Linked DNA regions of Homo sapiens. The protein of the gene in region 2 purifies or fractionates together with the protein of the main gene of each other region. This does not show direct contact. Each region holds a gene or a part of one and is shown on either strand. Other genes may lie near its edges. The genes, in order: QSOX1, DPEP2, PLTP, KDELR3, POGLUT1, POGLUT2 and ARSK.

Evidence for each region.
Region 1: the proteins of DPEP2 (region 2) and QSOX1 purify together in Homo sapiens (affinity purification with mass spectrometry; one large-scale study listed by BioGRID and IntAct). This does not show direct contact.
Region 3: the proteins of DPEP2 (region 2) and PLTP purify together in Homo sapiens (affinity purification with mass spectrometry; 2 studies listed by BioGRID and IntAct, with this or other methods). This does not show direct contact.
Region 4: the proteins of DPEP2 (region 2) and KDELR3 purify together in Homo sapiens (affinity purification with mass spectrometry; 2 studies listed by BioGRID and IntAct, with this or other methods). This does not show direct contact.
Region 5: the proteins of DPEP2 (region 2) and POGLUT1 purify together in Homo sapiens (affinity purification with mass spectrometry; 3 studies listed by BioGRID and IntAct, with this or other methods). This does not show direct contact.
Region 6: the proteins of DPEP2 (region 2) and POGLUT2 purify together in Homo sapiens (affinity purification with mass spectrometry; one large-scale study listed by BioGRID and IntAct). This does not show direct contact.
Region 7: the proteins of DPEP2 (region 2) and ARSK purify together in Homo sapiens (affinity purification with mass spectrometry; one large-scale study listed by BioGRID and IntAct). This does not show direct contact.

The regions. Positions count from the first base shown.
Region 1 is NC_000001.11:180,196,338-180,200,228, reverse strand, and holds part of QSOX1 (sulfhydryl oxidase 1 isoform a precursor), read right to left. Parts: coding exon 3,192-3,891; 3' UTR 2,897-3,191; coding exon of another isoform or gene 2,888-2,896; 3' UTR 1-2,887. UniProt on the Homo sapiens protein: Catalyzes the oxidation of sulfhydryl groups in peptide and protein thiols to disulfides with the reduction of oxygen to hydrogen peroxide. Plays a role in disulfide bond formation in a variety of extracellular proteins.
Region 2 is NC_000016.10:67,996,517-68,001,030, forward strand, and holds the start of DPEP2 (dipeptidase 2 isoform 1 precursor), read right to left. Parts: upstream 2,969-4,514; 5' UTR 2,901-2,968; coding exon of another isoform or gene 2,859-2,900; exon of another isoform or gene 2,751-2,858; intron 1-2,750.
Region 3 is NC_000020.11:45,905,526-45,909,416, forward strand, and holds part of PLTP (phospholipid transfer protein isoform a precursor), read right to left. Parts: intron 2,380-3,891; coding exon 2,316-2,379; intron 2,231-2,315; coding exon 2,167-2,230; intron 835-2,166; coding exon 743-834; intron 1-742. UniProt on the Homo sapiens protein: Mediates the transfer of phospholipids and free cholesterol from triglyceride-rich lipoproteins (low density lipoproteins or LDL and very low density lipoproteins or VLDL) into high-density lipoproteins (HDL) as well as the exchange of phospholipids between triglyceride-rich lipoproteins themselves.
Region 4 is NC_000022.11:38,466,559-38,470,926, reverse strand, and holds the start of KDELR3 (ER lumen protein-retaining receptor 3), read right to left. Parts: upstream 2,832-4,368; 5' UTR 2,694-2,831; coding exon 2,603-2,693; intron 1-2,602.
Region 5 is NC_000003.12:119,478,844-119,482,734, reverse strand, and holds part of POGLUT1 (protein O-glucosyltransferase 1 precursor), read right to left. Parts: intron 3,559-3,891; exon of another isoform or gene 3,061-3,558; intron 2,828-3,060; exon of another isoform or gene 2,685-2,827; coding exon 2,563-2,684; intron 1-2,562. UniProt on the Homo sapiens protein: Dual specificity glycosyltransferase that catalyzes the transfer of glucose and xylose from UDP-glucose and UDP-xylose, respectively, to a serine residue found in the consensus sequence of C-X-S-X-P-C.
Region 6 is NC_000013.11:102,792,294-102,796,184, reverse strand, and holds part of POGLUT2 (protein O-glucosyltransferase 2 isoform 1 precursor), read left to right. Parts: intron 1-2,378; coding exon 2,379-2,584; intron 2,585-2,764; exon of another isoform or gene 2,765-2,766; coding exon 2,767-2,844; intron 2,845-3,891. UniProt on the Homo sapiens protein: Protein glucosyltransferase that catalyzes the transfer of glucose from UDP-glucose to a serine residue within the consensus sequence peptide C-X-N-T-X-G-S-F-X-C. Can also catalyze the transfer of xylose from UDP-xylose but less efficiently.
Region 7 is NC_000005.10:95,602,598-95,605,739, forward strand, and holds the end of ARSK (arylsulfatase K precursor), read left to right. Parts: intron 1-639; coding exon 640-929; 3' UTR 930-2,505; downstream 2,506-3,142. UniProt on the Homo sapiens protein: Catalyzes the hydrolysis of pseudosubstrates such as p-nitrocatechol sulfate and p-nitrophenyl sulfate. Catalyzes the hydrolysis of the 2-sulfate groups of the 2-O-sulfo-D-glucuronate residues of chondroitin sulfate, heparin and heparitin sulfate.

The DNA.
Region 1 (3,891 bases), on a different chromosome or scaffold from region 2:
GGTAGTTTATCTCCAATGACACATGGGGACAAGGGGATAAGTTATCTTGCCCAAAGTCACACAGCCAGTGAGTGTTGGAAGCTGGATTCAAACCCAGACGTCAGATTCCAGAGTCCATTCTCTTCAAGGCTGGACTTGACCCCACCCTGACCCAGGGCCCAGATTTGAGGGCTCTCTCTGAGCCCACCTGACTTTCCTCCAGGGTCAAGGCTGGCTGGGTCCCCTGGAGCCCTCTCCTCCACCCCCACACCCAGAGGACAGGCTGCATCAGGGGTCTTCCCACCCCCACCCCATACCAAGGCTGCTGGAGAGGAGCCTGGCCCAAGGTGGCGCTGCCCCTCTTGGACCTCCAAGAATGCCGCATGGAGCAGCCCCTCAGGGCTGTAGTCCCTCTACACCTACATTGGGCCCCTCCAGCCTGGACCCCCACCCCTCCCACTTCCTGGCTTCCCATCCTTCAGGTCTCGCAGAAGCCTCCTCAACACCCTCCCTGCTTGGTCTCTATCCTTCAGAACCCTCATCACAACCTGTCCTTGCCTCTAGAACGGAAGCCCCATAGCAGCAGGGACCACGTATCTGTTTTAGCTTCAGTTTCTAGCCCAGTGCAGCATTGTGAAAATCCTTAGTAATATTTTTAAAAAGTTTTCGAATTCTACTTTTCTTTGCTGACTTGGCATGTGCTTTCTCCTCTGCCCGTAACCCCCGTTCCTCCTTATTTCCTTGCTAACACCTACTCGTCTTTCAAAGCTCCATGCCACTGTCTCCTTGAGGAAATTGTTCCTGTGCCCCCAGTAGGTAACACACCAGACAGAGGCGAGATTCTCTATCCCGCCCCAGACAAGGAGCCTTTGCTTTGCAGGGCTCCCCTTGGGACCCTCTCTTGCCAGGAGAGCCTCTAGAGAAGCCATCTAGAAGGGCATTCAAGACTCAGCAAGCTCCAGCTCCCAGCCTGGCAGACTGGGTGGGGGAGGGCCCAGCTGGTGGGCGAGGCTGGTTTATCGATGTTGCCGAGAGCCCTGGGGAAATCAAGGTGAAAGGCAGCCACGCTGCTGAGGAGGCCCACCCGTTTATCAACCAGAGGGGCTGGGGCCGGGCGAAAAGAGGCTTGGCTGCCAGAGGCAGCTGTGAGGTGGGAGGTCCACACCACTCCGTGGACCTGGAGGCTGGGCTACACACTGTGCAGCCCGGGCTGCTGCGACAGTGTTTCCAACATGGCGCTAATTCTAGGTAACTAAGTTTGGCTTTAGAAATACCGTCACTGGAGCCACAGGGCTTGCTGACAGAAATCCCCAGCACTTGGCATTGGGCAAGGAGCCCTTAGGGGGTGAAGGGCAGGCTTATTCAGCGGCCTTGGTGCAGTGGGCACACAGGGCACCGGCCCTGGGAGCCTCTGTCTTCCTCTTGCAGGCCAGGGTTGCCTCCTGATTGTGGGTTCCTGTCTGTCTCTCAGGCCCCCAGCCAGGGCCAGCCCAAGGGAGCAGGGGGTGCAGAGCACAACCAGGAGGATGGAGCCAATGGGTGCCTGGAGCAGGGGCACAGAGAGGGAGTCCAACCCAGGAGCCCAGCAAGGCGCTGCAGCTAAAGAGGTCGAGGGAAACATGCAGGGAGACTGCCATCCCTCCCCAGCCCCAGCTGCCCCATAGCAGGAGTGGCCTTGGCATCCCACCTGCTCCACATAGCACCCAGGCCATCTGAGCAGAGTGAAGATGTCAAAGAGAAAACCAAATCGGATTGAGGCTCCTGCTCCCCCTTAATGAGGTTCATTATCAGCAGCTCTGATCCTTGTAAAACCCAGCAGGCCGGATTAGGGGCAGGCTCTCTAATCCTGGCTGACTCCTCCCCACCGAGTGGCCAACCCTGCAGCTCTGACAAACAAGCCCTTGCTTCCTGGAGGAGCTGGAATTAGGCAGGTGCAGACAGGCTTCTCCCTCACCAGCCCAGGGCACTGAGGCAGGAGCTCTCAGGGAGGATTGGGGCAGGGGGTGGCAAGGCTGCACATCCAGAGGCCTGTCTCCGTGCATGAAAAGGCCATGGGGTTTGGGTGCAGACAGTTCTATGGGCAGTCTGTGGCCAGGAGCTGTGTGTGCTGAGGGACATCGAGTCTGGCTGCATTCCAGGTGAGGCTGGTCTCTGTGCATTCTGTCCAGACTGGACACTAGGTCTCCAAGTAGCAAGTTAAAGAACACACCAATGCTTGCCTTAACAAAAATAATTTATTCCACACACCTCCCAAGGCAGGGGGTAGCGTGGGAATCAAGCATGTGTAAGGCACTGCCCCCGCCAGACCCTTCTAACTTCTGCACACTGGAAGGTGAAACCTGGAGAGAGAAGACACTCCCCTCCCTAGCTTCTACCTGGCACCCTCCAAAGATGAGCATTCATCTTGGAGACCAAAATAAAAAAGGACAAAAGACCAGGCTCAGAGGGAGCAGAGCTCAATGGGGGGAAGTGAAAGCAGCCATCTTCTCCTGCAGCTAAGCCAGGGCAAGGCACTAGAGACCCACATCCTTCCCATGCCACCAACTCGTCAGGTCCCACCAAGCAAGCCACTCACCCTACAGCCCAGCAACCATGGCTTGCCTCACCTGGGAGACCAGCACGACTTCCAGAAGCTTCCAAACCCCACCCTGAAGCCAAACCCCACCCAGGAGGTCTGAGGAGCTGGAGGCTGGCCAGGCATAGAGGGCCCGGGGTGGTCCTTCCTCCCAGGGTGCAAAGGCTTCTTCATTGTCCGGAAGGGAGCAGGGTGGGCGGAGCCCCAGCAGCTAGTGAGGAGTTCCATTCCAGCCCACCCAGCTGGGGGACCCTCCTCTGGCTTCACTTGCCCCAGTTGAGGGCCAAGACCAAGCAGGAGAGACTGAGGCTCCAGTGAGAATGAGGCAGGACTTCAAATAAGCTGAAAAACAGGAATGTGGTGCTAAGAGGCCAGGGACTGAGCTGCCCTATGCCCACTGCCCGGGGCTGCCCTCCCTGCACAGCAGGGGAACCTGGACCCTGCTCCTGTCTTTTGTGTCAAAGGAGCTCTCTGTCCTAGCAACCCCAAGAAGCTTCACTGGAGCAACTCGTTTTCCTGAATTTCCCACACTTCTAGGCCAGACAAGGAGCAAGGGGTGGGAGGGGAGGGAATGGGGTCAGGGGGCTTGAGGTGCCTAGAGATGGCAGCTCCCTCTCCCGCCTCCTCCCCAGGTGGTTCAGGCTGCAGGGTGGCCAGCATGGCCCTTCAGGGCCCTTATCTTGGCCTGGAAGTAGGTGTACATGGCCAGCAGGCCCATGAAGGACAGGGAATAGAGCCCCACACAGAGGCTGATGTCCAGGTAAGAGAAGCCCCCTCCCAGCACCTGCAGCCACTGGCCTCGGCCCCGTCCAGCTCGGGCCTCCAGCTGGCCCTCAGGGATGTCGACCAGCTGCTTGGAGCTGCGGCCCACGCGCCTGACCTCCAAAGGGCCCCAGAGGCGGTTCTTCTCAGCCCTGGACTCAGCCAGCAATGCAGCCCCTGTGTCTCGCTTGCTCAAGTGCCACTGCCCAAGCGGCTGCTCCTGCTCATTCCTCTGAAGCTCTGCCATGTGCTCAGGAGGCTCCTGGCCTGGTGCAGCTCTGAGGCCAGGGTGCAGCTTCGGGGGTCGACTTGCCTCAGGTCCCTCAGCCGGCACATGTGGGGTGGTGTTTGTGGGGGACTTCATCATCTCAGGCTTCCCAGGGTCCAGAGTTGAATTCCGGCTTTCCAGCTCCAGGGCTCCCATCGCCAGCTCTGGGGCGGCTGCCACATTCTGCACATCCCTCCGGGCAGCTGACCCAGCTGCAGGGAAGTCCAGGATGATGTTGCTTGGGGAGAAGTGGGCCTTGAGGAAGTTGAGGGTGGCTTCCACGTCCCACACGGGCACATCCAGGCGT
Region 2 (4,514 bases):
AATTACAGGCATGTGCCACCACACCTGGCTAATTTTGTATTTTTTAGTAGAGATGGGGTTTCTCCATTTTGTTCAGGCTGGTCTTGAACTCCTGACCTCAGGTAATCCACCCACCACGGCCTCCCAAAGCGCTGGGATTATAGGTGTGAGCGACCGCACTCGGCCAACTTTTTGCATTTTTTTTTAAGCTTCTCTCCAGAGCCCGAATGTCTGACCTCCTGGGACTTGGGGTACCTGCTAGCTCAGCAGAGGCAGGCTGAGTTGAGCCAGTAAAAGTGAGCACTGTCTCTGTAGGAGATAAGCCAGACAACACAATTTTCCATGATATGCAACTTCAGTCCTCAAATGTGGCCTTGAGGGGACCATACAAAGCGAATCACAGACACACCCACACTTGTAGTTGCAGTGAGCATTATGATAACACCATAGCATTCCAGCCTGGGTGACAGGGCAAGACCCTGTCTGTAAAAAAATAGATAATGATATTATTATTATTATTATTATTATTATTATTATTATTATTATTATTTTCTGAGACAGAGTTTCATTCTTGTTGCCCAGGCTGGAGTGCAATGGTGCAATCTTGGCTCACTGCAATCTCTGCCTCCTGGGTTCAAGTGATTCTCCTGCCTCAGCCTCCCGAGTAGCTGAGATTACGGGCGCATGCCACCACTCCCGGCTAATTTTTGTATTTTTAGTAGAGATGGGGTTTTGCCATGTTGGCCAGGCTGGTCTCGAACTCCTGACCTCAGGTGATCCGCCTGCCTTGACCTCCCAAAGTGCTGGGATTACAGGCATGAGCCACCCCCGACCCTTGGCCAAATTTTTTATTTTTATATTTATTTGTTTATTTATTTTGAGATGGAATCTCGCTCTGTCGCCCAGGCTGGAGTGCAGTGGCACAATCTCGGCTCACTGCAAGCTCCGCCTCCCGGGTTCAGGCCATTCTCCTGCCGCAGCCTCCCGAGTAGCTGGGACTATAGGTGCCCGCCAACACGCCCGGCTAATTTTTTGTATTTTTAGTAGAGACGGGGTTTCACCGTGTTAGCCAGGATGGTCTTGATCTCCCGACCTCGTGATCCACTCACCTTGGCCTCCCAAAGTGCTAGGATTACAGGCATGAGCCACCGCGCCCAGCTCACATTTTTTAAAATGGAAGAAATAGGTATGGCTTTTCTGTAGGGAATGGGCTGGAGGCCAGGAGATCAGGAGGGGTAAGGAATGAAGGGGCCTGTAAGGGGGAGAAGCAGTGGGAACAGGAAGGAGACATTCCTGGGACATGTTTGGAAGTTGAACCCAGGATTTGGAGATGCTTTGAAGCAGGGTTGGTGGGAGACAGTAAGGAGGAATCAGCGGTGACACTTAAGGTCGGCTCTGGAGTCAGGCCCTGAGTTTCCCCGCCTCTGCCTTGTTTCCACTCTGCCCACTGCCAGCATCTAGCTAACTTAGACTGTAGCCTCTGACCCCAAATTATCCCTGTGCTCAGGTCTGTGCCACTGATATTGGCAGCTCCTAATGAGAGGTGACAGCGTGCTGCCAGTCCTCACAGCCCTCGCTCGCTCTCGGGGCCTCCTCTGCCTGGGCTCCCACTTTGGCGGCACTTGAAGAGCTCTTCAGCCCACCGCTGCACTGTAGGAGCCCCTTTCTGGGCTGGCCAAGGCCAGAGCCAGCTCCCTCAGCTTGCAGGGAGGTGTGGAGGGAGAGGCGCGAGTGGGAACCGGGGCTGCGAGCGGCGCTTGCGGGCCAGCTGGAGTTTCGGGTGGGCGTGGGCTTGGCGGGCCCGCACTCGGAGCGGCCCGCGGGCCCTGCTGGCCCCGGGCAATGAGGGGCTTGGCACCCGGGCCAGTGGCTGCGGAGGATGTACTGGGTCCCCCAGCAGTGCCAGCTCACAGGCGCTGCGCTCGACTTCTCACCGGGCCTTAGCTGCCTTCCCGGGGGGGCAGGGCTCGGGACCTGCAGCCCTCCATGCCTGAGCCTCCCACCCCCTCCATGGGCTCCTGTGCGGCCGGAGCCTCCCCGGTGAGCGCCGCCCCCTGCTCCACAGCGCCCAGTCCCATCGACCACCACAGGGCTGAGGAGTGCGGGCGCATGGCGCAGGACTGGCAGGCAGCTCCACCTGCATCCCTGGTGCGGGATCCACTGGGTGAAGCCAGTTGTGCTCCTGAGTCTGGTGGGGACGTGGACAATCTTTACGTCTAGCTCAGGATTGTAAATACACCAGTCGGCACTCAGTATCTAGCTCAAGGTTTGTAAACACACCAATCAGCACCCTGTGTCTAGCTCAGAGTTTGTGAATGCACCAACTGACACTCTGTATCTAGCTGCTCTGGTGGGGCCTTGGAGAACCTTTGTGTCGACACTCTGTATTTAGCTAATCTGGTGGCGACGTGGAGAACCTTTGTGTCTAGCTCAGGGATTGTAAACGCACCAATCAGCACCCTGTCAAAACAGACCACTCGGCTCTACCAATCAGCAGGATGTGGGTGGGGCCAGATAAGAGAATAAAAGCAGGCTGCCTGAGCCCGCAGTGGCTACCTGTTCTGGTCCCCTTCCACACTGTGGAAGCTTTGTTCTTTTGCTCTTTGCAGTAAATCTTGCTACTGTTCACTCTTTGGGTCCATGCTGCTTTTATGAGCTTTAACACTCACCGCGAAGGTCTGCAGCTTCACTCCTGAAGCCAGCGAGACCACAAGCCCACTGGGAGGAACAAACGACTCCAGACGCACTGCCTTAAAAGCTGTAACACTCACCACGAAGGTCTGCAGCTTCACTCCTGAGCCAACAAGACCACAAACCCACCAGAAGGAAGAAACTCCAAACATCCAAACATCAAAAGAAACAAACTCCAGACGCGCTACCTTAAGAGCTGTAACACTCACTGCGAGGGTCTGCAGCTTCATTCTAGAACTCAGTGAGACCAAGAACCCACCAATTCCGGACACACTAAGACAAGATTTCACTAGTGTGTGCTGTTTCCCCTGCAAGGGGGAGGGCACAGAGATGGCTTTGGGTGAGGTTAGGGGGAGGATAGGCCTCCTGGTTGGCTAACACTTGTTTACTTCTGGGGCATGAGTGTTCATGTGAGCCCACGATGCCTGGCCTGTTCCTCTTTTAACAAAGTCTGGTAGGACATGGTGGCTCATGCCTGTAATCCCAGTAATTTGAAGGTCGAGGTGAGAGGATCTCTTGAAGCCGGAGGTTTGAGACCAGTCTAGGCAACATAATGAGAACTCTAAGAAAAAGGAAAAAAAAAAGTGGTGCATGCCTGTGGTTCCAGGTACTTACGAGGCTGAGGTGGGAGGTTCGCCTGAGCCCAGGAGTTTAAGGTTGCAGTGAGAGACGATGGCACCACTGCTCCCTAGCCTGGGCGACAGAGTGAGACCCCATCTCTAACAAAACGAAAACAAGATCCAATGCATCCTCCTGCCTGAAGTTCTTCCGTGGCTTCTCATTGCAGAAATCTACCGAATTTCTTTCTTTGGCTTTCAACTCATGGAGAGTCTGCTCTCACCAGCCTCTCCAGTCTCAGCAAATAGCACAAACTTTCCTGTCCTCCAAAATCTGGCCACCTCAGTGATGCTACGTCCCCCCATAGAGCCTTGGCACAACCTCAGCCTCCAATTGGTAGGGCTGTTGAGGCAAGGCCAGGATAGGAAATCTTGCTACCAGGAAGGAGTAGGTGGGTGAACAGCTTTTCCCTCTACTTCCTCTTCTATGCAGTGTTTGCATAAATCAAGACCTGCAGAGGAGGCAGCAGTAGAAACAGTTTGCTCCAAGGACCAAACTTATTCTGGTGTGCAGCTCACTCGCCCCTACTCATCTCCAGTGTATTTCAAGAGTATGCAGGGAAGGAAAAAGTCAGGCTGAGTTATAGCTGCACAGGCTGCCTCCCATGCTCAGAGCGCAGAGGTGGGGTGCAGCTGGGGCTTACTCAGTATCCAGCAGTGCCCAGATGATGATCATCTGCATCCAAGCCCCTCTGGTCCTGGAGACTCATGCTTCCCTTTGATGTCGCCCTGGATCTGCTCCCATGATGTCTGATACAGACAATTCCCAAGAAACAATAGTCTTCCAAGCCAGAAAGCAGCCTGGCCACTGTAGACAAACATCCTCCAATCACCAAGCTGAAGCCACCCTTCCTGAAACGTCAAATAGCTAACATAACATTTTTCTTCCACAAAAGGAAGTCAATGTTTATGTTTCTAGGAGAAGTGCAATAACCCCAAATGCATCTTTATCTCCTGAATGCATCTAGAACCTTCTGCTCAAGCCTTACCAACCAACCCCTACCCCGCCAGCCTCTCTGTCCAACATTCCTGGGGTGCTTTTTTTTTTTTTTTTTGGAGTGCGAGGGCACGATCTCGGCTCACTGCAACCTCCACCTTCCAGGTTCAAGCGATTCTCCTGCCTCAGCCTCCCAAGTACGTGGGATTACAGGCATGCACCACCAGGCTGGCTAATTTTTGTATTTTTTTTAGTAGAGATGGGGTTTCACCATGTTGATGAGGCTGGAT
Region 3 (3,891 bases), on a different chromosome or scaffold from region 2:
TTAGGAAACTGGCCAACTGAAAACTTATGCTTAGGGCCGTGCAGCTAGTCAGTGGCAGAGCTAGGATTTGAACTTCAGGCATTCTTTTTCTCTTTGTAGAGAAGGAGGTCTCACTATGATGCCCAAGCTGGTCTCAAACTCCTGGGCTCAAGCGATCCTCTCGCCTGGGCCTCCCAAAGTATTGGGATTACAGGCATGAGCCACTGCACCCGACTGATTCTAGCTCCCGAGTCTGCACTCTGAAACTGCTATACTCCTCTGGGAGACCAAAGGTAGTGGCTACACACTGGCTATGTGGCCTTGGGCAAGTGACGTCACCTCTATGAGTAAGTCTCCACATTCCTAAAATTAGGATGATGTTAGTACCTGACTCACAGGGTTGTGAGAGAATGAAATGAGATTATTTGTATAGAAATTTATGTCCAGCTCCTTCGGGGGAGTTGGGGAAAGGCCGTGCATGAGCAAAGGCCCTGAGGTGGGAAGCCAGGGTCCAATTTGGGAAAGAGCAGCTGCAAAGAAACAGGATGAGATATAAAAGGTGGGGCCAGGTAAGATTAACAGGGGCTCAAATGCCAGACCCAGGAGGCTGAACCTAATTCTGTAGTAACAGGGAGCCATAGCATTCTCAGTAATGGGAGTGGCCTCATCAGAGCTGTGCTTTAAGAAGTAAAATCTTGCAACTTAGCAGAGAAAGAGGTCTTGTTAGGAAGTCAGAGGTCATACACCAGCCCAAGCAGCTCACCCGGAAGTCCATGTCCAGGTTGCTGGTGGAAGCCACAGGATCCTTCATGAGGGAATAGTCAATGCCAACAAGCTCGTCCACAGAACTGCGCACTGCAGGAAGGGGCTCAAGTCACTCACGGCTGTGTGATGTGGGATAAGGTGCTTAACCTCTCCAGGCTCAGAGGCCCACCCATAAAATGAGGATACATCCTTCACAGGGTTGTCATGAGGGTCAAATTAGTTTTATGTGGAAAGCACTTAGGGCCTGGTGTGTAGTTAGGTGCTCATTAATGTTAGTTATTATTATTACTACCACTATAGAGGTTTCAAAAAAATAACTAAACAAGATGGCATGGGGGGGCCGCGCATGGTGGCTCACACCTGTAATCCCAGCACTTAGGGAGGTCAAGGCGGGCGGATCACCTGAGGTCAGGTGTTCGAGACCAGCCTGGTCCACCACGGTGAAACCCCGTCTCTACTAAAAATACAAAAATTAGTTGGGCATGGTGGTGGGCGCCTGTAATCCCAGCTACTCAGGAGGCTGAGGCAGGAGAATCGCTTGATCCTGGGAGGTGGAGGTTGCAGGGAGCCAGGATTGCACCACTGCACTCCAGCCTGGGTGACAGAGCGAGACTCCATCTCAAAAAAAAAAAAAAAAAAAAAAGATGGCATGAGGTTCCTTTCCCTTGGTTTCTCCTACCTCCTCCTTCGCTTCCCATGCCTGTGTGTTAGGTGTGATGGGAAAATACCTTTGCCCCACAGTAGACAGAGGTCATGGCTTAGAAAAAGGGAATTCATGGCCAGGCACAGTGGCTCATGCCTATAATCCCAGCACTTTGGGAGGCCAAGGTGGGCAGATCAGGAGGTCAGGAGATCGAGACCATCCCGGCCAACATGGTGAAACCCCGTCTCTACTAAAACACAAAAAACTAGTTGGGCATGGTGGTGCACGCCTGTAGTCCCAGCTACTCGAGATGCTGAGGCAGGAGAATTGCTTGAACCCGGGAGGTGGAGATTGCAGTGAGCTGAGATCGCGCCACTGGACTCCAGCCTGGCAACAGAGTGAGACTGTAAGACTCCGTGCAAAAAAAAAAAAAAAAGAAAGAAAAAGAAAAAGGGAATTCATGTTAATTGAGCACCTATTAGATGCTAGGTGATGAAGACAAATGGGATGCCAGTGATCAGCATGCACATATTGAGGACCTTGACAACTATTCTCTCAGATAATCCTCACAGCAACCCCAGGAGGAGGCACTGCCAGCCAAGTGAGGAAACAAGCACTTTGCCCAGACAGAAATGAGCACTTCACCCAAAATCGCACAACAAGTCAGCTCCAGGGGCCACATTTGAACCCAGGACTGTTCAACAGCAGGGCTCGGAAGGGGCCTGCTCTGAGGTGCTGCATGACAGCTGCACACCCAGACTCACCCGCCACCAACTCACCAGGCACGGTGTCCAGGAGGGAGTTGAGCAGGACCGTCCCTGCGTGGTAGAGGACAGGGCAGATCTGCGAGGTGGGAGCCAGAGTCAGGGCCTTCTCAAAGTGAGAGCATGCCCACCCTTGCCACCCTGCGACCTGTCGCTGCCCACACCTGCTGGTTGAGGAGGAAGCGCATCCCTGAGGTGATGAACGTGGAGAGAAAATCATACACCTTCCTGTGAGGAGAGGAGAGGCCGGATGAGCCCAGAACCTGCCTCCACCCCAGTCCAGGTCCAGGAGAAATCAGTGACTAGGGAAATAGTGGCAGTAGGAGTCCTCAGCTTCAGCCTGAATAACAGCTCCTCCACGTAGGTTTTCCAAGAACCAGGCCCAAATTCCCTCTCCAGTCTAATTCTCAAGACCTCCTGACCTACTCTCTGGTCCCATCAGTCAAATGAATCCACCCACATTGCCTCAAACCCACTCTGAGCATCCCCACATCCATCGGCTTACTGATGCCCTCCCTTCCGCCCTCTGCATTCCTACTCTGTATTTTCCCATCTGAGCTCAGATGCTTCCTCTTCCAGGCAGTCTTCCCAGATTCCCCTCCTCTGAATCCCCAAAGCATTTTCTTAGTCCTTCTCTCCAGGCCCTGATATCAAATGTTTTTTGCTCCAGATAGGCTCTGAGCTCCTTCCTGCATCCTCAGGGACTGGCATACACTTTGTTTGATGAATAAATAATACTGACAGTGTACCAACACCAGGTTATAATCCATCATCTTCTCTCCCCCATCCTCTTCCAGAACAAGAACAATATCCCCTTCTCAGCAGCAAAAATAAAAAAATAGGCCGGGCACAGTTGCTCAGGCCTGTAATCCCAGCACTTTGGTAGGCCGAGGCGGACAGACCACCTGAGATCAGGAGTTTGAGACCAGCGTGGCCAATATGGCGAAACCCTGTCTCTACTAAAAATACAAAAAAAGTAGTTGGGCATGGTGGTGCATGCCTGTAGTCCCAGCTACTTGGGAGGCTGAGGCAGGAGAATCGTTTGAACCCAGGAGGTGGAGGTTGCAGTAAACCGAGATGGCGCCACTGCACTCCAGGCTGGGTGACACAGTGAGACTCCCTCTCAAAAAAAAAATTATTATTTTTGTTATTATTATTTAGAGATACCAATTATTGAGAATCCAGTACATGGCCAAATGTGCATATCAGATAGTCCTCACAGTTACTCTTATCTAAGTGGCCAGCACTTAAATATACATTTATCATATGCCAGGTGCTGTTCTAAATTTTTTTTTTTTTTTTTTTTTGAGATGGAATCTTGCTCTGTCACCAGGCTGGAGTGCAGTGGCACGATCTCAGCTCACTGCAACCTCCGCCTCCCGGGTTCAAGCGATTCTCCTGCCTCAGCCTCCCACGTAGCTGGGACTACAGGCACGTGCCACCACGCCCAGCTAATTTTTGTATTTTTAGTAGAGATGGGGTTTCACCATGTTGGCCAGGATGATCTCGATCTGTTAACCTTGTGATCCGCCCGCCCAGACCTCCCAAATTGCTGGGATTTCAGGCATGAGCCACCACAGCCAGCCTTGTTCTAAATATTTTTTACATATACCAACACAAATAATCCTGACAACGATCTTATAAAATAGGATCTTATAAAATGAGGATATTGAGGCACCAAGCTTCAGTGACTTGGCCACGTTCACACAGCCAGGAAGTGACAGAGCTGAGCTTTGGACC
Region 4 (4,368 bases), on a different chromosome or scaffold from region 2:
TGTGATCTACCCGCCTTGGCATCCCAAAGTGCTGGGATTACAGGTGTGAGCCACTGTGCCCAGCCCCCCGGTGATCTTGAGCACAATAGTTTTCACACTTTTGAAAACAATCATTTCCACCAGGAAGCTGCACATGGAGACCCGGGACACAGAGGACAATGTGAGCCTGGACTGGCCAGAGTCCCTCCGGGGTCCACTAAGCATAGGTGGACCCCACTGCCAGGGGCAGCCCTCACTCCCATTTGACAAATGGGAAAACACAGGCCCAGGGTCACACAGCGAGTCAAGGGGAGGAGTGAGAGTGAAGCCCAAGTCTCTGGTCTTTGGGGCTGGGTCTGTTGAGGTCATACCAGGCCCTGCCTCCATCACCTCTGACTTCTCTCTGTGCACACACAGGCCCATCCCTGCCACCCAGCTGCCCTTTTTCTGTTCCCATAGTACTCACTATGGCCTCCAACAAACCGTGTCATTTGCTCAGTTTCCTAGGACTATTGTTTATTGATGGCTTCCTACCACTAGAAAGTCAGGTCCACCACTTGGCCGGGCATGGTGGCTCACACCTGTGACTCGAGCCCAGGAGTTCGAGACCAGCCTGGCCAATATGGCGAAACCCCGTCTCTACTAAAAATACAAAAATTAGCTGAGTGTGATGGCGGGCGTCTGTAATCCCAGCTACTTGGAAGGCTGAAGCAGGAGAATAGCTTGAACCTGGGAGGCAGAGGTTGCAGTGAGCCGAGATTGCGCCACTGCACTCCAGCCTAGGGGATAGAACAAAACTCTGTCTCAAAAAAAAAAAAAAAGAAGTGGGCGCAGTGGCCCACGCCTACAATCCCAGCACCAGCACTTTCGGAGGCCGAGGTGGGTGAATCACCTGAGGTCAGGCGTTCAAGACCAGCCTGGCCAACATGGCGAAACCCCGTCTCTACTAAAAATACAAAAATTAGCCGGGTGTGGTGGTGCGTGCCTGTAATCCCAGCTACTCAGGAGGCTGAGGCAGGAGAATCGCTTGAACCTGGGAGGTGGAGGTTGCAGTGAGCCGAGATCACACCACAGTACTTCAGCTTCAGGGACAAAGCGAAACTCTGTTAAAAAATAAAAATAAAAAATAAATAAAAGAAAGTCAGCTCCACCAGGGCTGGGCCTCTGCTGTCCGGGCTGTATTCTAGGTGCCCAGCAGTGTCTGGCAGACAGCGGCCAGGTACCAGTGTCCCCTCTTGGTCATGGTTGCTCACTCCGTGCAGGGCCTTCTGCAAAAGTGCAGGAAGAGGTTGGAGCTGATTCTCCCCTCACCAGGGCCTGCTGCTCCGGGTCCCCCACTCAGCATTCCTGGCCACCTCCCCTGAGGAAGAACCTGAACTGTCTCTGTACCTGTCTCTCCAGAGACCCCAAACCCAAATGGCCTCCAGGCCTAGAACCACTCCCTCCACACCGTACTGTTGCTCATGTCTGCACCAACCCCCACCCTGCCAGGCCTCCCCCTGCTCTGTGCCTTTTCTCTCAAAGCTTGCAAAGCAACCTGTTCAGGCCCCCTTCCAGGCCCCTTCCCGGCTCCCAAACCATGAAGGGCTCCCCAGACCCAACTCCCTGGCCTGGCAGAAAAGGCCCTTTCACATCTGGACCAGCCTCCCTCCTGGACTCATCTCCCTCCAGACCACCCCAAATCTGGCTGCCCACCCTTCCCGGGGGATGCCCGGTGCTTGGTGACCTCCATGCCTCTTCATCCCCGGAGCCCTCCACAGCACACACTTCCTGGATTGACACCTGCTCGTCCTCCGGGACCAGCACGGAGCTGCTCCTTCCACAGGGCCTTCGGGGCCCACTCTCAGCCTTCTCAGCCTCCTCAGCCCCACGAGGAGCCTGAGCTCACTCCTGCCTCTGCACACCCAGTGCCAGGCACAGGGAGGGCACCACGAGGATGCCGGTGGACAAAGATGGCTGGAGGAGGCTCTGGCAGCCTTTCGTGGCTCTGGATCTGTTGGCGACCGCGAGTCCAGCCTCCAAGCTTCTCCAAACCCCCAGCAGGGCAGCCAGAATGCAAACAGGGGACCCCTCCAGCCTTCCCCGGCTTCCGTTTAGAGGCAGCTCCATACCCGCCTGAGCCCGGCTGGTGCCCTCCTGCCACATCACAGCCACCGGTGCCACACATGCAGGCAGGGGAGGGACGAGGGCTCACTTTGGGGGGCGGGGTGGGGTCTGGGAAGGGGCAGGGAAGAGAAGACCTTGAGAATCGTGGGCCGTTCCTGAGTGCATATCTGCTTCTCCCCACAGTCGATGGTGGAAGGAACAATGGGTGTAACTGGTGGGAGGGAGGGGTTGTCACCTCCCTTATAACCCCCTCTTCCAACCAGCAGTGACACTGCCAACCTGAGGGGGCGTCTGTGCAGGAACAAACCCACCCGCCTCCCATCATCTCGAGGGGTCCTCCTCCTCTGATTTTATACAACTTTACATTGTTTTTGGAAGTGGAGCTCCGCAAAGTTTCAAGGACCCCCACGCCGGAGTCCCCACCCTGAGCAGACACCTGGAGCGCCCTGCCCTGCACGCAGGGGCATGAGGCTGGCCAGAGAGGGGGTCCCGCACCTCCCTGCCAGGCGCCCCTCACCCTTGCAGCACTTGGACCTCCAGATCTTCCCCAGCAGCAAGATCATGGCCAGGAGGTGGCTCAGGTCGCCGAGGATTCGGAACACGTTCATGGTCCAGCCAGTCAGTCGTGCGCCCGCGCCCAGCAAACTTCTAGGAAACTTTCTGGCGGGCAGGGCGGCTGCCACGTCTCCGGCCCCGGTCTCTAGGTGCCCCAGAGCCCTGCCTGCGCCTCACAGCTCCGCGATCGCACCCGCGCGCCGCCGCCCACGCACTCTTGGCCGGGCGGTGACGTGGCCAGGGCGGCCGCCGGCGCAGGGTGGGGAGCCAGGAAGCGGCGCGGCCCGGAGATCCCGCCTCCCGCCCATCCCAGCGCCCGGCTCCCGGACTGGGCGGCCCGGCGACGCGGGGGGGCTTCTGGCCTGCGCCCGGCTGCCGTGTGCGCCGGGTGCCCGCCACGACCCATGTCGCCCATGCCCCAAGTGCCCTCTGCCTTCCCTCCGCAGAAACTGGAGGCCTGCCACCAAGCCCCAATCTCTGCCTCAGTTTCCTCATCTGTACACAGGCCCCATAACACTGGTGCCAGCGCTTGGCAGGAGCCAGCACGTGGAAGTACCCTGTGGGGCGATTCCTGCTATTGTCCTCATCTTCCCGGAGCTGGAGCTCCCTCCCTGGGAGAGTGGGGTGGGGCGGGGCGAGCCGGAAGCGGAGTCCCCACCTCCGTCTGTTAATTTGGTTGTCCACCCGGTCGGGACCCGATCTTGCTGCAGGTGGACAATGGTAATGGCACACCACTCAGCAGCAGAATCAGACTGACCTCGGCTGCAGCCTGGGTCGGTGGGCCTTCCTCTCTCTTGGTCTCAATTTTCTCACCTGTAAAATCGGGTTGTTGTGGGTAGGCAGGAGGTCAAGCTGGTCAGGGAGATCCAGGGCCCTCGTTCGTGCCTTCCCTCTTCTTGGTGTTACTAGGATGTTAAACAGGGACACACAGGACAGGAGAGACCCAGGAGGGCTGAGCACCAGGAAGGGTGGGGAGTGAAGGGTCCCTGGTGGGAGGGAGTCCTCCCAGGGCTGTGTGGTCTGAGCAGGTCCACCACCCCCTCTGGATATAAGTCTCTGCGTCTGAAAGAGTGGACCAGGTGAGCTGAGGGCCCTTAGCCTCCCCTCCTTGACCTGAATAAGCCCTCCTCCCATTCAGCGCCCTCATCTCTCTCTAAATAACGGACCTCCTCCCACTCCCACCTCCTGCCACAGATAACCAGAGAGGCTTTTCCATGACAAATGTATTTAAACAGAGATGGGGTCTCACTGTGTTGCCCAGGCTAGTCTCGAACTCTTGTGCTCAGGCCATCTGCCTGCCTCAGCCTTCCAAATGCTGGGATTACAGGCATAAGCCACTATGGCCAGCCTCTTTTCTGTGATAAAAATCTGTCACTTCAGTGGTCAAGACCCTTCTATGGCTCCCTATGCCCCCTACTTTCCCTACTTTTCCTCCCAGGGAAAGGCAGTCCTTTTTTTTTTGAGACAGAGTCTCGCTCTGTGGCCCAGGCTGGGGTGCAGTGGCACAATCTCTGCTCACTGCAATCTCTGCCTCCCTGGTTCAGGCGATTCTCATGCCTCAGCCTCCCAAGTAGCTGGGATTACAGGCGCCCGCCACCACGCCAGGCTAATTTTTGTATTCTTAGTAGAGATGGGGTTTCACCATGTTGGCCAGGCTGGTCTCGAACTCCTGACCTCAGATGATTTGCCTGCCTCAGCCTCCCAAAGTGCGGGGATTACAGGCGTGAA
Region 5 (3,891 bases), on a different chromosome or scaffold from region 2:
CAGTGCAGATGGATAAACAAGCAGATTATTAAATTTTCAAGGTAACAAATGAACATCATTAGAGATTCTAAACAGAGGGTTCTAAAAAACAAAATTGTATTTCTATAACCATGAATAAATTCAATTGAATAAAATGGGAAGGTATCAAAAGAAAAAAGTATTCATATAAGATTAGACTTTAAAACATTCTATCTGCCTAAAAATTGCTTACTAGTTTACCTGGGGGAAAATGGTATTAATAACTACACGGTGGAGTAACTGGATAACACCTTGACCCCAGGAGTTTGAGTCCAGCCTGGGCAACATAGTGAGATCCTGCCTTTTAAAAATAAACAAACAAACAAATAAATAAAGTGACTCTTTCATATGTACTGACATGAAACAAAGACATGGAAAGATTACTTAGATACACCAATAAGTTAGGGGGAAAGTTGCCTGAGTTATACATATTTGTAAAATTTTATGAGCATATATAGGTTTCATAATCAGTAAAAATGTTTTTAAAGATTTTGAAAACAAAGCAGCTGCATGGCAGGTGGGAAAAGAGCTACAAAAAGAAGAATGTGAAAAGGGTATTTGCAAGTACCTGAGGAGGGGGGGAAAGGATTAGAAAATTAAGGCCAAGGCCAAGAATAACTTAGGGAAAAAAAAGTTTAAAACCTTTTTTCCAGCTTAGTGTGGTGGCTCATGCCTGTAATCCCAGCACTTTGGAGGCCAAGGTGGGAGGATCACTTGAGCCCAGGAGTTTGAGATCAGGCTGGGAAACATAGCAAGACCTGTCTCTACAAAAAATTTTAAAAAACAACCAAGAAACAAAAAAACCACACCTTTTTCCCCCCCTCTCAAAATTATGTTCAAAACCCAAAAATAAACAAGAAATGACAGTCTCAATGTCAGGAAAACACAAGGAATATTAACCAGTAAAGTAGGTTGGATAATGCACTTGGAAACCTGGTCTTTAGGCCTAGATTTGCTTCTGACCTTGACCAGATCACTAAACCTTTCTGTACCTTCATTCCCTTATCCCTGAAATAAAGGGCTGGACAAAGACAATTTCTAGTTCCAGTTCTGTAAAATATGAGACTAAGTTATTATTTTTTAAAATTTCCAAATTATACCCACTAGAGAAGTTTGTTTTTTAACAAAGGGCTCTACCCACCACTGAGGACTGCAGCCCTGTACGTTTCTTCAGGAAGGGAATATTACCTTAATCCTCTTTGAATCTTCAGCCACACTTGGGAGAGGTGATAGGTATTTATGGAAACAAGGTTGAATTGTTTGCTTTCCTTATACCTGAGAGAAGGCCTATAATGACTGTGTTTCCGGAAGTTCTCTAATTAAGCACCAAAGTTGTTTGAATCATGATGTAAAATGTAGCTAGGTAAGAAATACCTACAGCTTGGATGAGCTACACAATCTAAATTCTGAAATGATAGCAGGATGGAGTCAACAGGCCAAGGCATGTCTCAGTCATGAATCAGAGAGGATCTGGAATAAGCTTGTACTTGAGATGCTTATGGGACATTTATGCTCCCTCAGCCCTGCCTAAACTACTTAGCTCTCAATTGCCAAGTATGTTTATATTCTTCCAAATAATTTTCTATCCCCCCTATGACGAGGTCATTCATTTTTTCTTACTATGAAAGAATGCACTCTTATTTAAAGAATCTTAAGTATAGAAAAATTGAAAATACTGACTGAGCACAGGGGCTCGTGCCTGTAATCCCAGCACTTTGGGAGGCCGAGGTGGGTGGATCACTTGAGGCCAGGAGTTCCAGACCAGCCTGGGCAACATGGCAAAACCACATCTCTACTAAAAATACAAAAAATTAGCCAGGTGTGGTGGCACATGCCTGTAATCCCAGCTACTCGGGAGGCTGAGGCAAGAGAATTGCTTGAACCTGGGAGGCAGAGGTTGCAGTGAGCCGCGATAGCACCACTGCACTCCAGCCTGGGAGACAGAACATGACTGTGTCGCAAAAAAAAAAAAAAAGAAAGAAAAATTTAAAATACAAAACAAAAGTCTCTGATAATCCCTTGCAAAGAGGCATTGCTGATAGTTTAGGATAGACTATTCTGCCCCTTTCTATGGATATGTAAATATTATTAGACACGTACAAAATTGTTTACACTACAGTTTTCTGTCTTTAATTTTTAACTTAAAAATTAGTCACTTAAAAATAAATAGGCTGGGCGCGGTGGCTCACGCCTGTAATCCCAGCACTTTGGGAGGCTGAGGTGGGCAGATCACCTGAGGTCAGGAGTTCAAGACCAGCCTGACCAACATGGAGACACCCCGTCTCTACTAAAAATACGAAATTAGCCGGGTGTGGTGGCACATGCCTGTAATCCCAGCTACTCGGGAGGCTGAGGCAAGAGAATCACTTGAACCTGGGAGGCGGAGGTTGCGGTGAGCTGAGATCACGCCATTGCACTCTAGCCTGGGCAAAAAGGGCGAAACTCCGTCTCAAAAAAAAAAAAAGTAAATAATTGGTTATATTCTATGGCTTATTTCAAGAAAACCCAGAAAGAGAAAAAATAAAACCTCTTTAAAGGACCTACCTTACCAGATCTTCTCTGAAGAGGTCCCACCGTCCAAGACCTGTAGGATAAATTGGCCAAACAGCAGGTCCCCCTTCCCAAAATGTCCAAGCAGGATACATGATATCATGGTACTCTGATGTCTTCAACAAAAACAGACAGGTCGTCCTAAATCAGTCTTGGAACAGTGAAAAGAGGCAACTGCAATCATGCCACAGGATCTGGACAGCCTTGGTTTAGTGTCACATTGTCAAAGATATATTTTCCCTATTTTCCAAAGTCTAGCCTGTAGACATTAAAAGGCAAAAGTGACTATGGATTAAAAGTCATGGGCTCACTGAATTCCAGAATTCAGAATCACATTAAAGGTCAGCTTTTTCAGTTCCCCCAAATTCTGTTTTTCTAGAGGATATATACTGTTAAGATTTCCAATTTAAGGAAACAATATGCCCAATTCTGAATAATCACAGAGCTCTCTCATTGTTTAACTATTACATTTAAGAGTTTACACTGTCTTACCAGTTTTTGGTTATTTCCCAATGGGTTTTTTTGAGAGTAAGAGCCAAGAAATACATGCAATGGTTAAGAGTGTGGGCTCCTGATGTGGATCACATGGGTTTGGATTCTGACTCCACCTCTTTACAGCTCTAGGCAAGTTACTTAATGGTTCTATGCCTCAGCTTCCTTATCACTGTAATGGGGGAAACAATAATATCAATAATATGATCTAACTAAAAGGTTTATTTTGAATATTAAATGAGTTGATACACGTAAAATTCTTAGAACAGTAGCTGGCACATTGTACATACTTGATAAATATTGGCTAGTGTTATCTCATACTATGGCACTGTTGGGCTCACATTGATTGGTCAATAAATTCTTGGTTATTCACTGATCGGGGTCAGAAGTATGGATGAGCAAAATGAGAAGGGGTGTTATCACATATCTTTTGAAAGAAGTTTGAGGTTGGGCACGGTGGCTCACACCTGTAATCCCAGCACTTTGGGAGGCCGAGACGGGTAGATCACCTGAGGTCAGGAGTTTGAAATCAGCCTGGTCAACATGGTGAAACCCTGTCTCTACTAAAAAATACACACAAAATAATAGCCGGGCATGGTGGCAGGTGCCTATAGTCCCAGATACTCAGGAGGCTGAGGTGGAGAATCACTTGAACCTGGGAGGTGGAGGTTGCAGTGAGCTGAGATCGCGCCACTGCACTCCAGCCTGGGCAACAGAGTGAGACTCTGCCTCAAAAAAAAGAAAAAAGTTTAAAGCCATATGTTCCCCCCTTTTTTTTTTTTTTTTGATCCACCTGCCTCGGCCTCCCAAAGTGCTGGGATTACAGGTGTG
Region 6 (3,891 bases), on a different chromosome or scaffold from region 2:
TAGCTGGGATTACAGGCACGCACCACCATGCCAGGCTAATTTTTGTATTTTTAGTAGAGACAGGATTTCACCATGTTGACCAGGATGGTTTCGATCTCTTGACCTCATGATCTGCCTGCCTCAGTCTCCCAAAGTGCTGGGATTACAGGTGTGAGCCACCATGCTCGGCCATTCTGATGTTTCTTATATAGGATGAGAGTACAGTTTTATTACCTAGAGCCATCTCCTTCCCTCTTACAGGCGACAGTACCACAAGACAGTAGGGAAGCAGTGTATATACAAAGGCAGAAATCTTGTCCCCCCCTTAACAACCCCAAGAAAAGTAAACTTTTTTTTTTTTATTTTTGTGAACTCTGCAGAGAAGTAAGAAAAGGTAAACACTTTTCAAGAGTGTCTAGGTTCCTTTCCTACATTCTGCCAGTACAGCCTGGTACAGTATCACCCACTAAACCTTAAAAAGATATTCCATTGTCAGCCACTGCCTGGGTTAGGTGGGATCTGAGAATTATAAAAAGGAATAACAGTAAAAACCTCAGTGCAGACTGTAATTAATTTGTTATAAAATTAGTGAAGTGGACTGTTTTGAGAATTACTTTTGCTTCTTTTTGTTGCCGTTGTTGTTGAGACAGGGTCTCGCTCTGTTGCCCAGGCTGGAGTGCAGTGGTGCAATCACTGCTTACTGCAGCCTCGACCTCCTGGGTTCAAGCAATCCTCCCACCTCAGCTGCATGAGTAGCTGGGACTACAGGCACTCACCACCATGCCCCACTAATTTTTGTATTTTTTGTAGAAACAGGGTTTTGCCATGTTGCTCAGACTGGTCCCGAACCCTGGAGCTCAAGTGATCTGCCCACCTCAGTCTCCCAAAGTGCTAGGATTACAGGCGTGAGCCACTGTACCCAGCTACTTTTGCTTTTTTTTTTTTTTTTTTTTTTGAGACGATGTCTCGCTCTGTCACTAGCCTAGAGTGCAGTGGTGCAATCTCGGCTCACTGCAAGCTCTGCCTCCCGGGTTCAAGCGATTCTGCTGCCTCAGCCACCCAAATAGCTGAGACTACAGGGACGCGCCACAACACCTGGCTAATTTTTGTATTTTTAGTAGAGACGGGGTTTCACCATGTTGACCAGGATGGTCTCGATCTCCTGACCTCGTGATCCGCCCGCCTCAGCCTCCCAAAGTGCTGGGATTACAGGCATGAGCCAAGAACCCAGCCTACTTTTCCTCCTTAATAATTCTTAAAAAAAAAAAAAAAAAGAATAGCAGTTCCTTGTTTATTTTTGCTGTTATTGATGATTTACTTATTGAGAAAAGTACCTTAGACACTTTAAGAACCTGTTTGTATAACAGACCATCAAAATAGTAAATCATATCACTTTTGTCTTTCATTAAAATAGGTATGCTCCTCTGATACCCTTTTACCAGTATTTGGTTATTCTTCAGTCTGCAAAACATAAGGAATAATGAGCTGTAATATTACCATAGACATAAACCAAGTATCTGTTGTCTTTCTTTTATTTTTTGAAACAAGAGTCTCACTCTGTCCCCCAAGCTGGAGCACAGTGGCACAATCTCCGCTCACTGCAACCTTCACCTCCCAGATTCAAGCTATTGTCATGCCTCAGCCTCCTGAGTAGCTGAGATTTCAGGCACACACCACCATACCCAGCTAAACTTTTTTGTATTTTTAGTAGAGATGGGGTTTCAACATGTTGGCCAGGCTGGTCTCAAACTCCTGACCTCAAGTTATCCACCCACCTCAGCCTCCCAAAGTGCTGGTATTACAGACGTGAGCCACTGCACCCAGCCTCTATTTCCTTTCTTTTGAACTCATGCAAAGTAGACCTTATTATTATGAAAATATCACAAAACTTCACTGTGAAGAGCTGTCAGAGTAGAAGGCTGACTTACTTGCAATGCCCCAGTATAGTAAAAATGTATTACTTTTTTTTTCTTTGAAACGGGCTCTCACTGTCTTGCCCAGGATGGAGTGGCGCAAACATGGCTCACTGCAGCTTCAACCTCCTGGGCTCAAGTGATCCTCCCACGTCAGCCTCCCAAGTAGCTGAAACCACAGGTGCATGCCAACGCACCCAGCTAATTTTTTATTTTTTGTAGAGACATGGTCTCCCTGTGTTGCCCAGGCTGCTCCCGAACTCCTGGGCTCAGGCTGTCTTCCTGCCTCAGCCTCCCAAAGTGCTGGGATTACCGACATGAGCCAACCTTGCTGGCCTGTAATTCTCTTAAAATGTGTTTTCAATGAAAATGCTCTTCCTATGTAACTAAGCAAAATTCATGAAGCCACATTATAGATGTTTATTACAAGTTTCGAATGCTGAGTGAAATGATCACTGTTGTACTTTGTTATTCTTATGTAAATAGGGCCGGTTTACCATGAGAACTGTGACTGTCCTCTGCAAGATAGTGCAGCCTGGCTACGGGAGATGAACTGCCCTGAAACCATTGCTCAGATTCAGAGAGATCTGGCACATTTCCCTGCTGTGGATCCAGAAAAGATTGCAGTAGAAATCCCAAAAAGATTTGGACAGAGGCAGAGCCTATGTCACTACACCTTAAAGGATAACAAGGTACAACACATGATTTTTTGCTTGTTTGTTTTAGTGATTTTTTTTCTTGTTTTGAACATTTGGCTACAATTAGCTAAATCATTTTATAAACATCATTCGAATGAGCACTGTGACAAGCTTTTCCTCAGTGAAGTCTGCCAGCGTCTTTAGACTAACATAATAAATGGTAAATTCTCTTTTAGGTTTATATCAAGACTCATGGTGAACATGTAGGTTTTAGAATTTTCATGGATGCCATACTACTTTCTTTGACTAGAAAGGTAAGTATATATTTTCTCTTAGCTGTAATAGATAATTTAAGCCCAGATTTTACAGGATAATTTTTCAAAATACAAATTATACACTATCAGGGTATTCTCTTCTGGAGCCTTATGATAATACTATTCTGAAGCTTTCTGTTATTTCAGGTACCTGCGTTTGTTTCCTAGGGCTGCCGTAACAAAGTGCTACAAACTGGAAGCCTTAAAATAACAGAAATGTATTCTCTGGCAGTTATGGAGGCCAGATGTCCAAAATCAAAGTGTCAGCTAGGTGCCATGGCTCACGCCTGTAATCCTAGCACTTTAGGAGGTCAAAGCGGGTGGATCACTTGAGCCCAGGAGCTTGAGACCAGGCTGGGCAACATGGTGAAGACCTGTCTCTACAAAAAATACAAAAATTAGCCTGTAGTAGTTTCAGCTAATGGGGAGCTGAGGCAGGAAGATCGCTTGAACCTAGGAGGTCGAGGCTGCATGAGCCGAGATCACGCCACTGCACTCCCAAGGCCTGGGTGACAAGAGTGAGATCCTGTCCCCCCCCAAAAAAAATTAAAGTGTCAGGAGGCCAGCTCCCTCTGAGATGATCCTTTCCTTTCCTTTCCTGCCTCTTCCTGGCTGCTGTCAGTGGCCCTCCATCTTTGGTGTTCCTTGGTTTGCAGCTGCATCCTCCCATCTCTGCCTCTGTCATCACGTGGGCTTCTCCCCTCATGTCTCTGGGTCTCTTCTTATAAGGACACAGCATAGTGGATTAATGGCCCAGCCTACTCCAGTATGACCTCATGCTAACTAATATCTGCAACAACCCTATTTCCAAATAAGGTCATTCTGAGACACTGGGATTTAAGACTTCAGCATATCTTTTGCAGGGACACAATATTTTATAGAGGAAAGAAAAATGCCTTATCATAAAATTATTTTGGTACTAAACTAACTCTGAGTCCAAAGATGACTTGCCTTGTACTGAATCCCATTCCTTGGGATAATGGGCTTTTGTTGGGTTCTAGTGGAATGGTTTGAAAGTAATGTTAAAATGGTGGATGTGAAAGACTC
Region 7 (3,142 bases), on a different chromosome or scaffold from region 2:
TAGATTGGTATACTAGTTATATCCCTGTCTTCCCATACCATATCTAAAAAGTATCTTTATGGATCTGAAATATTTATCATTATTTTCTTGCTGGCAGTGATTGAGAAGTTTGTATTTCCATGGCTGTTTGTTCAAATGGACAGTACTGATGAATGTAACTTTCAAAACTCCAAGCATAAGATACTAATATATAAAGAAAACTAGGACTAAGTAAAGTTGCAGGAACATGACTTGTCTATATAAAGAATTTGTAGAAAGTTTGAGGCTGTTAAAATGGTACAGTATAAGCATTACTGTATTCATTTCTGCCTGTCAAAGTAGGCAGGACATCAAAAACAGGAAGAACTTGTTCTAAACCAGCTTACTAATGATAAAAGTTTGACTTTTTCTGGCATTTAAGAAAAGAAAAAAAAAGTGGGATAGCTGGACAATGGTAGGAAGGAGGGAATTTGGGCATGCAACATAGGGTGTTTAACTCCTGGTATGTTATTTTACCATTTATACTGTCCTTCATTTTACTACACTAACAGGAACTGAAAATCTAAAAAAAAAATCTAATACATTACCTGTCATAATGACATTCTAAAAAAATTTTTAGCAGGTCACTATTTTGACAGATACTTATTTTTTTTCTTTCAGATCTTTCCTCGGATCCAGATGAATTAACAAATGTTGCTGTAAAATTTCCAGAAATTACTTATTCTTTGGATCAGAAGCTTCATTCCATTATAAACTACCCTAAAGTTTCTGCTTCTGTCCACCAGTATAATAAAGAGCAGTTTATCAAGTGGAAACAAAGTATAGGACAGAATTATTCAAACGTTATAGCAAATCTTAGGTGGCACCAAGACTGGCAGAAGGAACCAAGGAAGTATGAAAATGCAATTGATCAGTGGCTTAAAACCCATATGAATCCAAGAGCAGTTTGAACAAAAAGTTTAAAAATAGTGTTCTAGAGATACATATAAATATATTACAAGATCATAATTATGTATTTTAAATGAAACAGTTTTAATAATTACCAAGTTTTGGCCGGGCACAGTGGCTCACACCTGTAATCCCAGGACTTTGGGAGGCTGAGGAAAGCAGATCACAAGGTCAAGAGATTGAGACCATCCTGGCCAACATGGTGAAACCCTGTCTCTACTAAAAATACAAAAATTAGCTGGGCGCGGTGGTGCACACCTATAGTCTCAGCTACTCAGAGGCTGAGGCAGGAGGATCGCTTGAACCCGGGAGGCAGCAGTTGCAGTGAGCTGAGATTGCGCCACTGTACTCCAGCCTGGCAACAGAGTGAGACTGTGTCGCAAAAAAATAAAAATAAAATAATAATAATTACCAATTTTTCATTATTTTGTAAGAATGTAGTGTATTTTAAGATAAAATGCCAATGATTATAAAATCACATATTTTCAAAAATGGTTATTATTTAGGCCTTTGTACAATTTCTAACAATTTAGTGGAAGTATCAAAAGAATTGAAGCAAATACTGTAACAGTTATGTTCCTTTAAATAATAGAGAATATAAAATATTGTAATAATATGTATCATAAAATAGTTGTATGTGAGCATTTGATGGTGCTCGATGAGTTACTTGTATTTGATGGGATTGTTTGGATGTATTTAATGGGAGTATTTGGAGTATTTAACGGGATGTAAACCCTGGATGTACCTGATTTTGTTACTGTTTTATTTTAATAGGTAATATATATACAGGGTAAAAGCTTCAAATGGTACAAAAGGGTTAACAGTGATCGTGAAGTCTCTGTCCTTTCCCTCTTCCCTGCCATCCAGTTCCCCCTCCAAGAAGCAAGTACCGAAACCACCTGCTTACGCATTTTTAGAGATTGGCCACAAATTTATAAACAAATGTATATATTCCTTTCCCCCTACACAAACGGTAACATACTGCACACATTGTTCTGCATGTTGCTTCTTTTTCCTTTTTTTTTTCACTTAACAGTAGATATCTAGAGGTGAAATTACTGAGTCAAGACTATATTTAGCAAAATTACACTAGATACTACAAATTACCTCTAAAGAAGGTATACTAACTGATAATCTCACCATCAATGCATGTCTTCTTATCCTTTGCCAACCTAACAGATAAAAATGTTCTATTTTTATTTTTCTTTTTATGAGTAACGTAGAGCATATTTTCATGTATTTAACAGCCACTGGAATCTGCTTTACCATGGCCTTTCCTATTTCTATTCTTTGCCTATTTTTCTGTTGGTTGTTGGTCTTTGTTTTGTATTACAGGTGTGCTTTAGATATTAGCTTTTTGTAAGAGATCCTGCAAATATCTTCTTTCCAGTTTGTCATTGTCATTTGTCTTTTGACTTTGTTCTGGTATTTTTTGATATGTAGAAATTTTTATTTTCATGTAAGCAAATTTATGAATCTTTGTACACCATAAGTATATACAATTATGATTTGTCAATTAAAAATATTAGTACAAAATTTACAGATCTTTGCTTTTGTGGCTTTTGGGATTTTGTATCATATTTAGAATGGCCTTCTCCACTTGTCATTTTTTTTTTTGAGACGGAGTCTCGCTCTGTCACCCAGACTGGAGTGCAATGGTGCAATCCCGGTTTCAAGTGATTCTCCTGCCTCAGCCTCCCAAGTAGCTGGATTACAGGCACCCGCCACCACACCCAGCTAATTTTTTGTATTTTTAGTAGAGATGGGGTTTCACCGTGTTAGCCAGGATGGTCTTGATCTCCTGACCTGGTGATCTGCCCACCTAGGCCTCCCAAAGTGCTGGGATTACAGGCGTGAGCCACTGCGCCTGGCCTCCACTTGTCTTCTTTTATAATTTTATTTTTCACCTTTGGATCTTTGACCCAGCTGGAATGTATTAAACATATTAGAAATCTAACTTTGGTTGTTTTTTTAAATATGCCTACCCATTGATCTTTTATTGAGTAAACTGTCTCTTCTCCCATTCGTAAAAATGTCACTTCATCATATAATACCTTTGGTTGAGTACATTATCTTTTCCTCCATTGATTTGCGATGCCATTTTTATCTATACCAAAGTCCCATTTATACTTATGCCATTTCTGAACATTTTATTTTCCACTGGACCATTCTATTTTCTTTGTTTCTGTTTTGTTTTTTGTTTTTTTGAGACAGG